Homo sapiens: one gene and its partners. The protein of the gene in region 2 purifies or fractionates together with the protein of the main gene of each other region. This does not show direct contact. Each region holds a gene or a part of one and is shown on either strand. Other genes may lie near its edges.

Region 1 (3,930 bases), on a different chromosome or scaffold from region 2:
GGAAATAGGGGATCAGAGTTGTGGGTGTAGGTTCCCATTATTTCCCCATTTTTACCGATGTTAGTCCCAGAGAGGGCTGCAGATGATACCACATTAGGCAGCTACTCTAATGGAAAGCCCACAGTTTTCTGAAGAACCAGCAGGCAGATTTTAGGGCAACTTTACTCTCTGAAAAGTGACAGAGTCAGAGTAAAAGAGTTCCAAATTCTGCATACACTCTACCCATATCTCTGATGACTCTAAACCACACATTGCAGGTCACAGTCAAAGCAGATTAGCTACCAGTAAAAGAACTCAGATTTGAGATGCTGTCCAAGGGGTAGAGTTTGCAGTTTGGGTCCAACCAAGTAAAATATCAACACAGCAATATAACAGAATCTGTGCAACATTCAAAACCCAAATAAAACTATTTAATTTACAAAGAACCAAGAAAATGTGGCCTATGCTTAGGAGAAAATACATTAAGGGAGACTAACAACTTCAAGTTGACCCAGACACTCGCATTCTCAGACAAGAGTCTTACAGCAACATTCAGCTATGCTTAGTGACATAAAGAAATATATACTCACAATGAATGAATAAAAACACAGAAAAATCTCAGCAGAGAAAAAAAACTTTTAACAAATAAATGGAAATCTTAAAATTGAAAAATACAATATCTAAAATAATATATTAACTAGGGCTTTACAGAAGAATGAAGAGGAGAAAGGAAATTGTAATTGTCAGTGAACTTGAATATATAGCAATAGAAATTATTCAATCAAAAGAACAGAGAGACAAGATATTGGGGAAAATATGTATAAAAAGGGAACTAAGAACTAAGAGAACTCCTCACTAGCAGACCTACACTACTAGAAACAATAACAGAAATTATTCAGGATGAAAGAAAATAATACCAGGTAGAAACTTGGAAATTCAAGAAGGAATTAAGAGTATTAGAAATGACAACTAGAGTGGACATAGTATGTGCCACCAACAGTTGCCTCTGACTTTTTGTTCCTGCCACTAGGATCACTGTCAACAGACAGTCTTCAGTTTTCAGCCTCTCCAGGGATGACTTCAGTTACTTAGACCAAAGTCAGACCCTTTCCAGGGGAGCCCATATCCAACGACTGATTTAGATGGAGTTATAAAGGAACAGCCATTTTTATTCAATGCAGGGCCTCTCTAAGGCCAATCTAGCTCCTGAGCTCCCTGTGGGGTCAGTGAGGGTGTCAGTTGGTTGAGATTGCAGGTAGACTTCTCCCTCTGCTCACAAGCATACTGTACACAAAACTCTATCTCAGAGTCTAACTTCCAAGAGAACCTGCAACAGCAACAATAACTCAAAGTAACAGACATTTTTGAAGAAAATTATTTCTTCAAAAGTGGAAAAACTGGCCAGGTACAGTGACTCACGCCTGTAATTCCAACACTTTGGGAGGCCAAGGCAGGAGGATTGCTTGAACCCAGGAGTTCAAGACCAGCCTGGGCAACATGGGAAAACCCTGTCTCTACAAAAAATACAAAAAAAAAAATTAGCCTGGCGTGGTGGTGCACACCTGTAGTCCCAGCTACTTGGGAGTCTGAAACAGGAGGATAACCTGAGACTGGGAGGTCAAGGCTGCAGTAAGCCATGATTGCACCACTGCACTCCAGCCTGAGTGATAGATAGAGTAAGACCCTGTCTCAAAAAAGAAATAGAAAAACTTTTAGCCCTGCTTTAATCCTGGAACTTTTTGGTATTGCTTTCCTTAAAGATTTTGGTCCTAGAATGGGGTCTAGGCATATAAATTCTATGTAGAAAAACTCTGAAGTTGTTGCTTAGTGTTAATGCATGAACAATATCATTTCTTCCTGGGGGGAAAAAGGGCTGATTGTGACTGTGTCTATTATATGAATTATATAAATCAGTGATATTTATTACCATTATTATTATTTAAAAAGTAATGATTGTTGACTTGATTCTTAGGGCCTACTAGCATCACATAGTCCAAAGGTATTTTATAACCACAGATCTGCTCCCAAATCCCAGTCAGCAATTGACAAATGTATGTGAGTGATAATAAGGCAGAAGAGGTAAAAACATGTTGATGGCTACTACATTTTTCAGACACAAATGGTTTTTCAGACACAAATGGTTAATTTTTCAGACACAACATAAAATCAAACAACAACTGGGTCATTTTATTAACTAAATGCCATTAACTGAAATATTCATGACCTTATTGGGAGGAAATTTATCTACGGTAAACTCTCTCATTTGTTCCCATTACCTTATTGCCATCCTCAAGCTACTAGCATCCCTCTATCTAATGTCTCATCTTAATCCTCAATTTCAGAAGAGTATCTCCTCCTACATGAGGTTAAGCACTCAATTGATACTCCACTTTGGCTCCCTTCCTGTCTCTTCTCAGATCTTCCTATCTTTTATAGACTGGAAAGAGATAAGTATGGTTCTTAGAGCCCAAATCCAAATATCTCTAGTGCTTATTCTATTGTTTTTGTCCATATGTTTATTCTGTTCGTGGGATGGATCATCTACTTCATGAATGATTCACAAACACTAGAGTTTTCTATACAGTCATCCCTCAGTGTCCTTGGGGGATTAGTTCTAGACCCCCAGAGATGGCAAAATTCAAGGATGCTCAAATCCCTAATATAAAATGGTGTAGTATTTCATATAACCTATGTACAATCTCTCACATACTTTCAATCATCTCTAGATTGCTATAAAACCTAATACAATGTAAATAATACATAAGTAGCTATTATATTGAATTATTTAGGAAATGACAAGAACAAAATCTGTACATGTTCAGTACTAATGAAATCATCTATTTTTTCCCTTTATATTTTCAACTGAAGTTGGTTGAATCCAGGGATGCAATACAGAGGGCTGACTGTATTTCCAAGTATCTGTAGGAATTTTCCTCCTACTTGTCCTCCCTTCCTATACTGAATTTAATATCTTCCTCCACAACGAAACTCCCTTCTCAGTCACATATATACCTCAGCGGCATCACAGAACTTTTTTCAAATGAGAACCCCAGGGCAGAAGCTCTTGACTCATGTTTCAAAATAAATATTTTACCTAGTGCCACCGCCACTCAATGGGACACTGTTACCACATTATTCTCCAAAAAATCCTACTTAATTATAAATTTTCCTGTTCACCAAAGAACAGGTGGTTCCTCATTGTCTACTGACTAATACCCAGGTTCTTTAATTTAGCTATTAAGGACCCCCAAAATCCAGCCTTATTTCCTACTATTATTTAACACACAACCTCTGTTCCTGCAAGCTACAGCTCTTTCTCTCTCTGAAGCACCTTGCATTTGCACATGCTACACATCCCATCCTTCCAATTCCTTTCTCTGCATTTCCCCATTTATCCAAACCTGTCATTCAAAGCCTAGCTCAAGACCCATCTCCATAAAATCCTCCACAACTCCAACCCACTGTAATTTCTCCCTCCTTTAGATTTGTACTAGTTTCATATACAATTTCAAGATTTACTGATTTTAAATGTTCACCAATTGTTTCATCTTACCTTTGTCTTTCTAATTTAGATTACTAATAACTTTTAGGCACTATTCTACACACACACACAGACATTAATAAGGACTTTTAATTAATTTATTAATTGCTTAAGCATGAACATTTAGAGAAAAACACACCTATAAATTATTATAACATGTAAATTCACAAATATGCAAACTAGAAAAGGAAGATAGGACTAAAGTTATTAATAAGGACAAAACCCTTCTTTTGCACAATTGTTTTGAATCTTTTTCCACTGTTTGCAAATCTGCCAAAGCTACCTTAGAGCCCTGTCTTGATTTTTATCTCCTCTTCTTGTTACTGCCTGTCCTCTAGTGGAAGACAACAATAAATGAATAAAAATTAGCCCAAAGAAGGAAAGAAGTGAAGGGTTCCTTTTTAGTAACT
Region 2 (2,600 bases):
AGGGCTGGCAGGCTGTGGCCTAAGGCACACTTTAATTACTTTCACAGGGTTCTCAGAGGACAAACTGATCAGAACAGAAGCCCTCTGGGTTTCCAGAGCAGTGCTCTCACAGAAAACTGCAGAGGCGACCTTCTTTTAAATCCAAAGTGGTACCTCTCTGCTGAAGGCACTCATACCCTCTCTTTCTCTCTCTCCTCCAGGTGCCTGTATCACCTGCCCTTCTGCTGACACTCCTGCCTGCTGTTCCTGACTACAGCCATCATGCCTCGGGGTCAGAAGAGTACGCTCCATGCACGTGAGAAACGCCAGCAGACCCGGGGTCAGACCCAGGATCACCAGGGTGCTCAGATCACTGCAACTAACAAGAAAAAAGTATCCTTTTCATCCCCTCTTATTTTGGGGGCTACTATCCAGAAAAAGTCTGCTGGTAGGTCACGTAGTGCTCTCAAGAAGCCTCAGAGAGCACTATCCACCACTACATCTGTAGATGTTTCTTACAAAAAGTCATACAAGGGAGCCAACAGCAAAATTGAGAAAAAGCAAAGCTTCTCTCAGGGTCTATCCTCCACTGTGCAGTCTCGCACAGACCCTCTAATCATGAAGACAAATATGTTGGTGCAGTTCCTGATGGAAATGTACAAGATGAAAAAGCCCATTATGAAAGCAGATATGCTAAAAATTGTCCAAAAAAGCCATAAGAATTGCTTCCCTGAGATCCTTAAAAAAGCTTCTTTCAACATGGAGGTGGTATTTGGTGTTGATTTAAAGAAAGTTGATTCTACCAAGGACTCCTATGTCCTTGTCAGCAAAATGGATCTCCCCAACAATGGGACAGTGACTCGTGGGAGGGGATTTCCCAAGACAGGTCTCCTGCTGAATCTCCTGGGCGTGATCTTCATGAAGGGCAACTGTGCCACTGAGGAGAAGATCTGGGAATTCCTGAATAAGATGAGAATATATGATGGGAAGAAACACTTCATATTTGGGGAGCCCAGAAAGCTCATCACCCAAGATTTGGTGAAGCTTAAATACCTGGAGTACCGACAAGTGCCCAACAGTAATCCTGCACGCTATGAATTCCTGTGGGGTCCAAGAGCCCATGCTGAAACCAGCAAGATGAAGGTCCTGGAGTTTTGGGCCAAGGTCAATAAAACTGTCCCCAGTGCGTTCCAGTTCTGGTATGAAGAGGCTTTGAGAGATGAGGAAGAAAGAGTCCAAGCTGCAGCTATGCTCAATGATGGCAGTAGTGCCATGGGCAGAAAGTGTTCCAAGGCCAAGGCTAGCAGCTCTTCCCACGCCTAGTGAAGTTGAAGCAAATTTTGCATTTTGTGGTTAAAGAGGGCAGTCACTGTTCCAAGGAGTGAAGGACTGGGTGTTACTGGAGGGAACACACTGTATAATACCTTTTGTTTCTGTTCTAAATGGATAATTTGAAGTTTTATCTGTATTTTGGGGCATATTTTTCAAATGTTCCTTTTATTTAACATTGTAATCTAAGTTTAGGATTGATACTGGTCACATTTGTTGTTTAAGAGTAAAAATTTTGCTGTTTTGTAAAACAGATTGAGAAAAATTCGATCTTATTTAGTGATCTGTTGCAAGATAACTTGGAATTAGAATAAGCATTTCCTTGAAAATGTTTAAAAAAAAAAAGTCAGCAGTAAAATGTATGGCATTAAGAAATAGAGAAAGAGTGTAAGATGGTCAATATTTGGTTTCCTAAATGCTTTTACTCTGTGCTTTAAGAAAATGAAAGATAAATAACCATATATGTCTGGCTTACTTAAGAATGTAGAATTAAATCATAATAAATTAGACCTCATGCTGACACACTCATTCTCCAAGTGTTAATTGAGCATCTGCTCTTGGAAGGATCCATGCTAATACTGGGAGGGCTAAGAAAAAGAAGACCTAGCAACTGACCTTAAAATTATAAGGTCGAGAAGCAGCTATCATCTAAGGAAAATGGTGATATACACTCTAAGACCAAAAGGATACATGATAAGAAGGGAGGGAGGTGGTTCCACATGAGAACAGTCAAGTATGAATTATCTAATCAAGGCGGTGTTGGGCCTAAGGAAAGTGCAGGTCCCTCAATGGGAGTTAATCTAAGTGAGGCTCCATGGTGGGCTGGATGAGGCTGTGGGAATGGCGAGCAGGGGCCAGGCTCTTAGAAGTTGCCTCTCACGCAGTGGCGGGCGCCTGTAGTCCCAGCTACTCGGGAGGCTGAGGCAGGAGAATGGCGTGAACCTGGGAGGCAGAGCTTGCAGTGAGCCGAGATTGTGCCACTGCAGTCCGGCCTGGGCTAAAGAGCGGGATTCCGTCTCAAAAGAAAAAAAAAAAGAAGTTGCCTCTCAGAGGTGCGAGACAAAGCTTGGAATAGGAAACAGTTCTTAACAGTTACTTTGGGATCATGGATAAATCAGGGAGAATCTGGGGTAGGAATGTGTCCTGTGCTCTTGTCCCAGTACAAATAAACACAGCACACACTAGGTGTTTTGTGCACATCATCTCCAGCCAGTTTCTGAGAAATAAGGGTAATACCCTCAAGGGACGGGGGAGGCCCAGAAGCCACTGTGCTGGTACTCTTTGCCCTGGGC
Region 3 (3,930 bases), on a different chromosome or scaffold from region 2:
CCTCAATGCGGGCCTGGGAATGGTGGAAAATACAAACTCAGCTTCTTTGTGTCATAACTGCCTCCGAGCCAGACTGATGAAAATCATGTACTTACTTGCAATTCTTTAATTTTCTTCTGCAATTGAATGCCAAGTGCCTGTTCATCTTCAATCTTGCTTTGCAGATTGCTGATTTCAAACTCTTTCCTTTTAGAAAAGTAGCAAAGGACAACAATTTAGTCCGTATCTAATGTTGGAAGCAAATCCATAAGCAATTCTTTCTTACTTACTTTTTGAGCTTTTCATCAAGTTGCTGTTTCTCATTTTCAATGTCCATTATGGATTCTTGGGCCAACTTCAAGTCACCCTCAAGTTTCCTCTTAGCCCTTTCTAGGTCCATGCGAAGTTTCTTTTCTTGCTCCAAGGACCCTTCAAGCTAAATATAAATTATGTTGAATCAGAAGGAATGCTTATCTTCCTTTAGAAGAAAAGAATGTCCTTGATGATACCAGACTTACATCATCCACTTGTTGTTCAAGTTTGATTTTAGCTTTGGTCAGGGTGTTGACTTTGTCCTCCTCTGCCTGCAGGTCATCCAGGGTCTGCTGGTGGGCCTCCTGGAGAGCCTTCTTCTCCTTGGTCAGCTTAGCAATGGTTTCATCCAGACCTGCCATCTCTTCTGTGAGGTTTTTCACCTACAAAGGTGAAGAAAGCAGTTTAGTTGCTATAAAGCACCTTTGTTGGGTGGCAGAACCTCTATACAGTACTGTAGAATATGATTGATACCTTGTTTTCTGTGGCATGTTTCTCCTTCTCAACCTTGGCCAGTGTCAGCTCAAGGTCATCAATGTCTTTCTTGAGTTCTGAACATTCATCCTCCAGTTTCCTCTTCTTGGCTGTCAGCTCAGCATTGATCTCTTCCTCATCCTCAGCTCTCTCAGTCACCTCTTTGATTTTGGCTTCTAGCTGGATTTTGGTTTTGATTAGCTGGTCACACCTTTCCTCTGCATCAGCCAAGCCTTCGGCTTCCTTAAGTTGGAAACAAGATCAAAATTGGGAAGAAAGAATGAAATACTTCACAATGGATAAGAGTGTATGTTTCTGCATTTGATCTTTTGAATTTCCTATATTCATTTGTTTACTCCTTCACAAATTTTTGTTTCATGAACCACCCTACTGTGTACATTTTCCACATGTGGGTAAGCCAAAATGTACCAGTTGTCATTTTGTTCCCCTAAAAGAATGTATTCTACAGTAGATTAGAAAACCTATTTCCCAAAAGCTACCATTAATGTAGAAAGCAATTAGTGACATAACAGATCAGAGAAGTTGGATCAGAGATGGTTTCATGAAAGAATTGCTGTTTGATTTGGGCCTTGAGAGAGGGGTAGGATTTGCTTTTGCAGAAATCAACTTATTGTGGAGAGGAGCAGGAGGGTTGTGGGGAAGCATTCTAGCAGGACAAATTCAAGATACAGCTGCTACTGATTTTTTTTTTTTGTAGTACTGGAGGATGCTCCTGATTATGATGTACTAAATTCAAGTTGAAACATAAAGTAATCAAGAAATTCCTGGCAACCTGCTGTTTCCAATTAAGGGGGACAGGGCAGGCGGGAAATGAAGGAGACACTGGAATATATACTCATCAGTAATCCTCCATATCAGTCTTTGACTACATTAAGGAATGCAGGGTGCTATGTATAACTGTGTAACGAATACAGTGGTTTAGTACAGATTCTGCATAAATCTCTGGGGACAACAGAAGAGAATACAGGGTAGATTTGGAGGGCTTTTTCCTTCTGTAATCTAGAAGGAGTTATTATACTGCTCAACGTTGACAGAGAGACCAGTCTTAACAGAAAAAAATATGACTTTATGATAAGTAGACCAATTCAATTCACTCCAAATAAAACATAGTCTTATAAATTATAGTCTGAAGTTGATGGAAGCAGTTCTAAAATGATTGGTTCAGGAGAGGGCAGTGAGCAGGCTGGATGGAAGAAGAGACAATTGGGAAGTAGGCTGAGCAACTTTGGTGCTGATGCAGCAATGTGGGTGTGACATGATGGGACACTGACTGTGGAGACAGATTAGAAAGAGGGAGTCTGAGTTTTTGAGATCAATATCACACGATAATTCAGTAAAATTTGATGAGAGTGCTGTCATATGTCAGCTGTTCCTATTATAATTTAAGACCCGTGGACATCTAGAAGTTCAAGGAAGTTTCCGAAAAATATTACTCTCTCCATGCTATCCTCCCCTTCATATTTTATTTGGGATTGTGTCATATTAAAATCATTTTTATGGACTGTATTTAAAGAGAAAATAAGTCAAAAATCTTGTGGTTTGATGAAATTGTGTACAATGGAAAATGAGGGATATTTCTACCTCACTGCCCTGGTGCTGGTTTGTTGGGGGTTATTGGGCAATGGAGGAATGTTTGGACCTTTTCGTGCCATTGGAGTGTTTTAACCTTTTCCTTCCAATGAGTGTCTCCCTTGCAATTACCCAACTCATGGCCCACAATGGCCAAAGTTCTAGCACCTGCATCCTGGTTAGTGATACCAAGGGTGATATTCCAACTCACAGCCTGAACTTGGAGCTGCAAGTCATTTTTTTCTTTCAACAGCGTCACCATCTTTTCTTCCAGTTCCTTCCTTTTTGCCTCTGACTTGGCAAGTTCGTCTTTAATTTTCTGAAATTCTTCCTTCATGGTGGCCATCTCCTTCTCAGTTTCTGCACTCTTCAACAGAGGCTTGATCTTGAAGAAGAGTTTCATCCAGGGCCAGTGCTTGACATTCATGAAGGATCTGATATTGTACTGGATACAGAAGATGGCCTCCCTGAAATTTAATTGATGCAAATTAGTATTGTGTGGTTGATGCAATGGGATGAAACCTTGGCAGTGAGAGTTGGAGGTTCTGCTTCACCTTGTTCCTACTCTGCTTTCAAACATGCAGATGAAAAAATTCTATTTCGGGATGATGGTCAAGGTCTTGCTAAGGTCACTCATTTCTCTACATCACTGCTTCTCAAACTTTGGCATGCATAAGAATCACCTGAAGGGCTTGTTAAAATACTGACTCCTGAACCTCACCTCCGTAGATTCAGATTCAGATTCAGAAGATCTAGGGTGGAGCCTGAAAATTGGCACTTTTAACAAGTTTGCAAGAAATGCTGATGTTGCAAGTCCAAGGAGCACCCTTTGAGAAGCCTTGCTGTATGTCAGTGCTTCTCAAACATTGCTACTAAAACACCACTAAGGGCAGTGAAGGGGGAACACAGCTCTTTAGGGGTATATGGGGCAGGAGATATTAAAAACTCAGAATTTCTTAGAAAATATCTGGCTTTATATGTTAATGTTGTGTGAATTTTGTATTCTATTCTCTAATACCACTTTTGTTTTCATCTAAATGATTTTTACAGCTAATTACCCCATATATAGACAATTACCCAAATATATATATATCGTGGATCATGACCAAAATTTATTATTTTTAATAAAATGGAATATAGTTGAAAATATTAGCATAATTACAAGTGGTAAAAATAAAATTTGCTTCATATAAATTATTTATATATCTGCATACACATATGTATATGTGTAGATGTATAGGTGGCAATGTAAAATGCCTTTCTCAACATGGAGAAATGGTCCTGATCACAGACATCCTGTACTTTGAGACACCTGGCTCTATAGTCTTTGAACTCTGTCCTTGCATCAAATTAGATCACCAAATAGCTACATTCCCTGATGCATTGTGTTAACTTACTGCAAAAAGTCTTTCACAGATAAATGGCCCCTAATATTTTAAATCATGAGAGTTTGATAATATAAATGATCAGAGGGAAAAAGTTGTCTCTACAGCCTGTGTAAAAGCACTCTTGAGTATACTGTCTGTTTTGCAGGTCAATGTCCCTTATCTAATGATCTGTCCAATAAATTCATAT
Region 4 (3,930 bases), on a different chromosome or scaffold from region 2:
AAATTTATCTTCAGTGCAGAAATAAAAGCACGTTTCATTGCTTTTTGGTTTTGATTATACTATCAACCAATAATAATGTTTAAATCATATTTCTTAGGAGCATAAAGCACTTTCTAGATATTTTTAATTCATGTAATATTTTGTAAAATCTCATCTTTAGGCCTATTTAATATGACAGTCTTCTCCAATAAATTTAAGATAATTCACAGGTATTATTCAGCCTCACAGTTTTGCTGTGTGACGGGAAAGCAGCAGGCATTAGGACTGTGATTTGACAAAGGCAAAAATGGAGACACAGCATGGAGCAGCCAGCCTCCCTGGCCGTGGCTCACCATGGCTGCATCTGCGCCTGAGCCTGCCTCCCAGCACTCACCTCTGCTTCCTCGAGAGCCAGCTGGATATCAGCCTTTTCCAGCTCAATCTGCTTTCTTGATTTCTCCAGTTCATGGATGGTTTTGCCATTTTCAGCAATTTGTTCTGTGAGATCTGCTATCTCCTCTGTAAAGAAGTAAGTTTCAGTTGCATATGAGCGCCTCTGCGTGGGTTTCCAGACATGCAAAGCATTGACTCAATGCTTTTTACCTGGTTTATTATAATCCTAAGGTTTCCTGCTTCCTAGAGATAAGATATTGTACAGAGAGAGGCTAAAACGTAACCCGTCAGATGGTGAACACTTTCTGCATGTGCATTAACACACATGTGTGCAGGAAACTGAGTGATGAAGCCACACCCACGCCAGCATGCTCTCGAGCAATAGAGCATGAAAGGAGGAGGTTTCAGAGGGTTTCGAATAGCTTACGCTCTAAGTTCTTATTTTCCCGTTTCACAGTTTCAAGTTGATCTAAGGCTTCCTCGTAGGCATTTTTCAGTTTGAAGAGCTCAGTGCTCAAGGAGCGGGACTCCTTCAGGGATGCCTCCAGCTCTGCTTGGCTCTCCTCACACTTTGTCTTCCACTCTGCCAACACCTGAAACACCGGACGGAAGTTCTCTCCGTTTCTGAGCTCTCCTCTAGGTTTCTAACAAAATACTAAATAACTAAATTAAATGCAGAGTTAGGGCTACACTTGGCATCACTTGCCTGGCTCCTTGTTGTCGATTATTGGGCTAATCAAGATTCTGTTCCATAAATGTACTCAAGGTAATGAGTCAGGAACAATTGCCATCTTGAAAAAGCAAATAGATCCTTTGAGAAGGAATTAGCTGGGCATAATTGTCCTTTTCCTAATATAAAAAGGGCCCTGTACTTCTAAATATTTCATTAAAGCATTGGTTCCAATCAACTTTATCTGCCATCTTGAAAGAAGGGCTTCCAGAAAGCCTCCCAATAGGATCTCAGCTTAGACAGACCAGTAGTACGGAAAGGAAAAATGCTTAGGACTGCACGGACATTGTAGAAATTGGTTTGTTTCCACGGACAACATTTGAAAGGGACCTCTACCCCCAGCCCATTCCCATTCTGTTTTGCAGATGAGGAAACTACAGCCCGGTGAAGTTCAGGGACTTGCCCAAGGCCACACTGCTGGTGAGGGCAGAGTCAGGTCCGGGATGCATTCTCCTCCTTCCACGGCTGCTAGGAATCCCTTACATCATGGCATTCACCCAGCACACAGCGGACCCCACACCTTGTCAAAGTTCCTCTGCTTCTTGTCCAGAGCGGCGGCCAAGGAATTGGCTCTTTCAACATCAACCATCAGATCCTCCACCTCTCCTTGCAGCCTCTGCTTGGTCTTCTCCAGTGAAGCACATTTAGCATTCACTGCCTCAACCTGTTCCTCGGAATCTTGAAGGCGCTGAGCAAGTTTTTTCCTTAAAGAATATGAAAGAGAAGCAGCTGTTATTTCAGTTTCCATCCACTTGAACATCACTATTCATCAAGTTGGAATCACTAATCTATGTGATTCAGACACCCATGTGTTTTTATACGCCCAGGAGAATTTCCTGTCTACTCAAAATCTGGGATCAATAACTTGCCTTGTGTCTGACCAAGATCAAAGCTGTTTGTTTTAATAAAATGTGCTAACGCCAGGTCCCTCTAATGGCCCAGCACCGCATTTAAAGACACATGAGATGGGGAAACGCCTAGTAATAAAAATAAATTCATCGAATTCATTCCTAAGTAGTTCTTCTAAAAGCAAACAGAGCTGCGCACTTGGCCTCCTCCAGCTCTTCTGTGCGCTGGATGGCGTCCGTCTCGTATTTGGTTCTCCACTGGGCAACCTCACTATTGGCCTTGGACAGCGCCCTCTGCAGCTCAGCTTTGCCTTCCTGCTCCTCCTCATACTGTTCCCGCAGCAGGTCACAGTCGTGGCGGGAGGACTGCAGGGCGTGCGCCAGGGCGTTCTTGGCCTGCAGAAGTTAAAAAGAGAAGAGCACCTGATATATTTAGTGCCAGGTGCATGATACAATCCAAGTGTGTCCCTTCTATCACCACCTTCTGAATGAAGTTGCCTTTTATTTTTTCCTCCTACAGGTGATATTTAAAAATAAGGGCAAAGAAGTCTTCCTTCAATGGTGTACCTTGTTCTCTTCCTCCAGCTGCCTCTTGAGCTCTTCTGTTTGCTGGGTAAAGGCTTGCTTGCTCCTGGAAAGTTGGGATACTATGCTTTCTTTTTCTTCCAGCTGACGACTCAGCTCACCTGTGTCCAGAAGGAAATAGTTTCATTTCATTTATTCACTCATTCACTCACCAACTTTCTATTATGTGTAGGGCACTGTGCTAAGATCTGGGGAGACAGAAAATGATAAGATATGGTTTCTTCTTCAGGGAGAAGGTATATGGTTCATGAAAAGGAAACTGAAAGCAGAACTGATAAGGTATTGTTGTAGGCCAGGTGCAGTGGCTCACGCCTGTAATCCCAGCACTTTGGGAGGCTGAGGCAGGCAGATCACAAGGTCAGGAGTTTGAGACCAGCCTGGCCAATATGGTGAAACCCCATCTCTACTAAAAACAAAAATTAGCCGGGCGTGGTCATGGGCACCTGTAGTCCCAGCTACTTGGGAGGCTGAGGCAGGAGAATCACTGGAACCCAGGAGGTGGAGGTTGCAGTGAGCCAAGATCATGCCTCAATCTCAAAAAAAAAAAAAAAAAAAAAGATATTGTTGTAAACTACTGGAAGGTGGGACTGATGTCTGTCAAAAAAAAAATCCATTGAGAAGAACTGTAAATGTAAACGTTACCAGGAGCACCTAATAACTCCCATCAGACCTCCCCAGTGGCAGGTGTTTCCAGCTGTTTATTGATTTGTTATCGACAAATACATAGGGAAATACTTAGAGCTTTATATCTCTAGTTAGACTCTTGGGGGAATAGGGTAAGTTCAAGTTTATATGCTTACATAGAGGTAAGAGAAAAACATAGAATGGGGCTTTATGGCTCCAGACGTGAATCCCCCAACATGGTAAAAGTGGCCACCATAGGCCGGGTGCGGTGGCTCACGCCTGTAATCCCAGCACTTTGGGAGGCCGACGCAGGCGGATCACGAGGTCAGGAGTTCAAGACCAGCCTGGCCAACACAGTGAAACCCTGTCTCTACTAAAAATACAAAAATTAGCCGTGTGTGTTGGCATGCGTCTGTAGTCCCAGCTACTCAGGAGGCTGAGGCAAGAGAATCGCTTGAACCCGGGAGGCGGAGTTTGCAGTGAGCCGAGATCACACAATTGCACTCCAGCCTGGGTGACAGAGAGTGAGACTCTGTCTAAAAAAAAAAAAATGTGGCTACCAAACTTCTTTTCTTCATTGTCTTGGCTGTGACTGCCAGCCGAGGATGGATTCACCTGTGAGGATGCACCAGGGCTGGGTGAAGCCACATTTTCTAGGCGAAAACTCCAAATAACATTCCCTTAAACTTTTTTTTTTTTTGAGACAGAGTTTCATTCTTGTTGCCCAGGCTGGAGTGCAATGGCATAATCTCGGCTCACTGCAACCTCCGC

What was found. Proteins that work in one complex are often made in the same cells at the same time.
Region 1: the proteins of MAGEB3 (region 2) and CD200R1 purify together in Homo sapiens (co-immunoprecipitation; 2 studies listed by BioGRID and IntAct, with this or other methods). This does not show direct contact.
Region 3: the proteins of MAGEB3 (region 2) and MYH2 purify together in Homo sapiens (co-immunoprecipitation; one large-scale study listed by IntAct). This does not show direct contact.
Region 4: the proteins of MAGEB3 (region 2) and MYH3 purify together in Homo sapiens (co-immunoprecipitation; one large-scale study listed by IntAct). This does not show direct contact.

What each region holds. Positions count from the first base shown.
Region 1 is NC_000003.12:112,968,512-112,972,441, forward strand, and holds part of CD200R1 (cell surface glycoprotein CD200 receptor 1 isoform a precursor), read right to left. Parts: intron 1-3,930. UniProt on the Homo sapiens protein: Inhibitory receptor for the CD200/OX2 cell surface glycoprotein. Limits inflammation by inhibiting the expression of pro-inflammatory molecules including TNF-alpha, interferons, and inducible nitric oxide synthase (iNOS) in response to selected stimuli.
Region 2 is NC_000023.11:30,235,664-30,238,263, forward strand, and holds the end of MAGEB3 (melanoma-associated antigen B3), read left to right. Parts: intron 1-200; 5' UTR 201-261; coding exon 262-1,302; 3' UTR 1,303-1,832; downstream 1,833-2,600.
Region 3 is NC_000017.11:10,529,067-10,532,996, forward strand, and holds part of MYH2 (myosin-2), read right to left. Parts: intron 2,823-3,930; coding exon 2,567-2,822; intron 1,009-2,566; coding exon 766-1,008; intron 675-765; coding exon 498-674; intron 416-497; coding exon 270-415; intron 187-269; coding exon 96-186; intron 14-95; coding exon 1-13. UniProt on the Homo sapiens protein: Myosins are actin-based motor molecules with ATPase activity essential for muscle contraction.
Region 4 is NC_000017.11:10,633,218-10,637,147, forward strand, and holds part of MYH3 (myosin-3), read right to left. Parts: intron 2,637-3,930; coding exon 2,518-2,636; intron 2,347-2,517; coding exon 2,150-2,346; intron 1,807-2,149; coding exon 1,623-1,806; exon of another isoform or gene 1,468-1,622; intron 966-1,467; coding exon 800-965; intron 499-799; coding exon 374-498; exon of another isoform or gene 199-373; intron 1-198. UniProt on the Homo sapiens protein: Muscle contraction.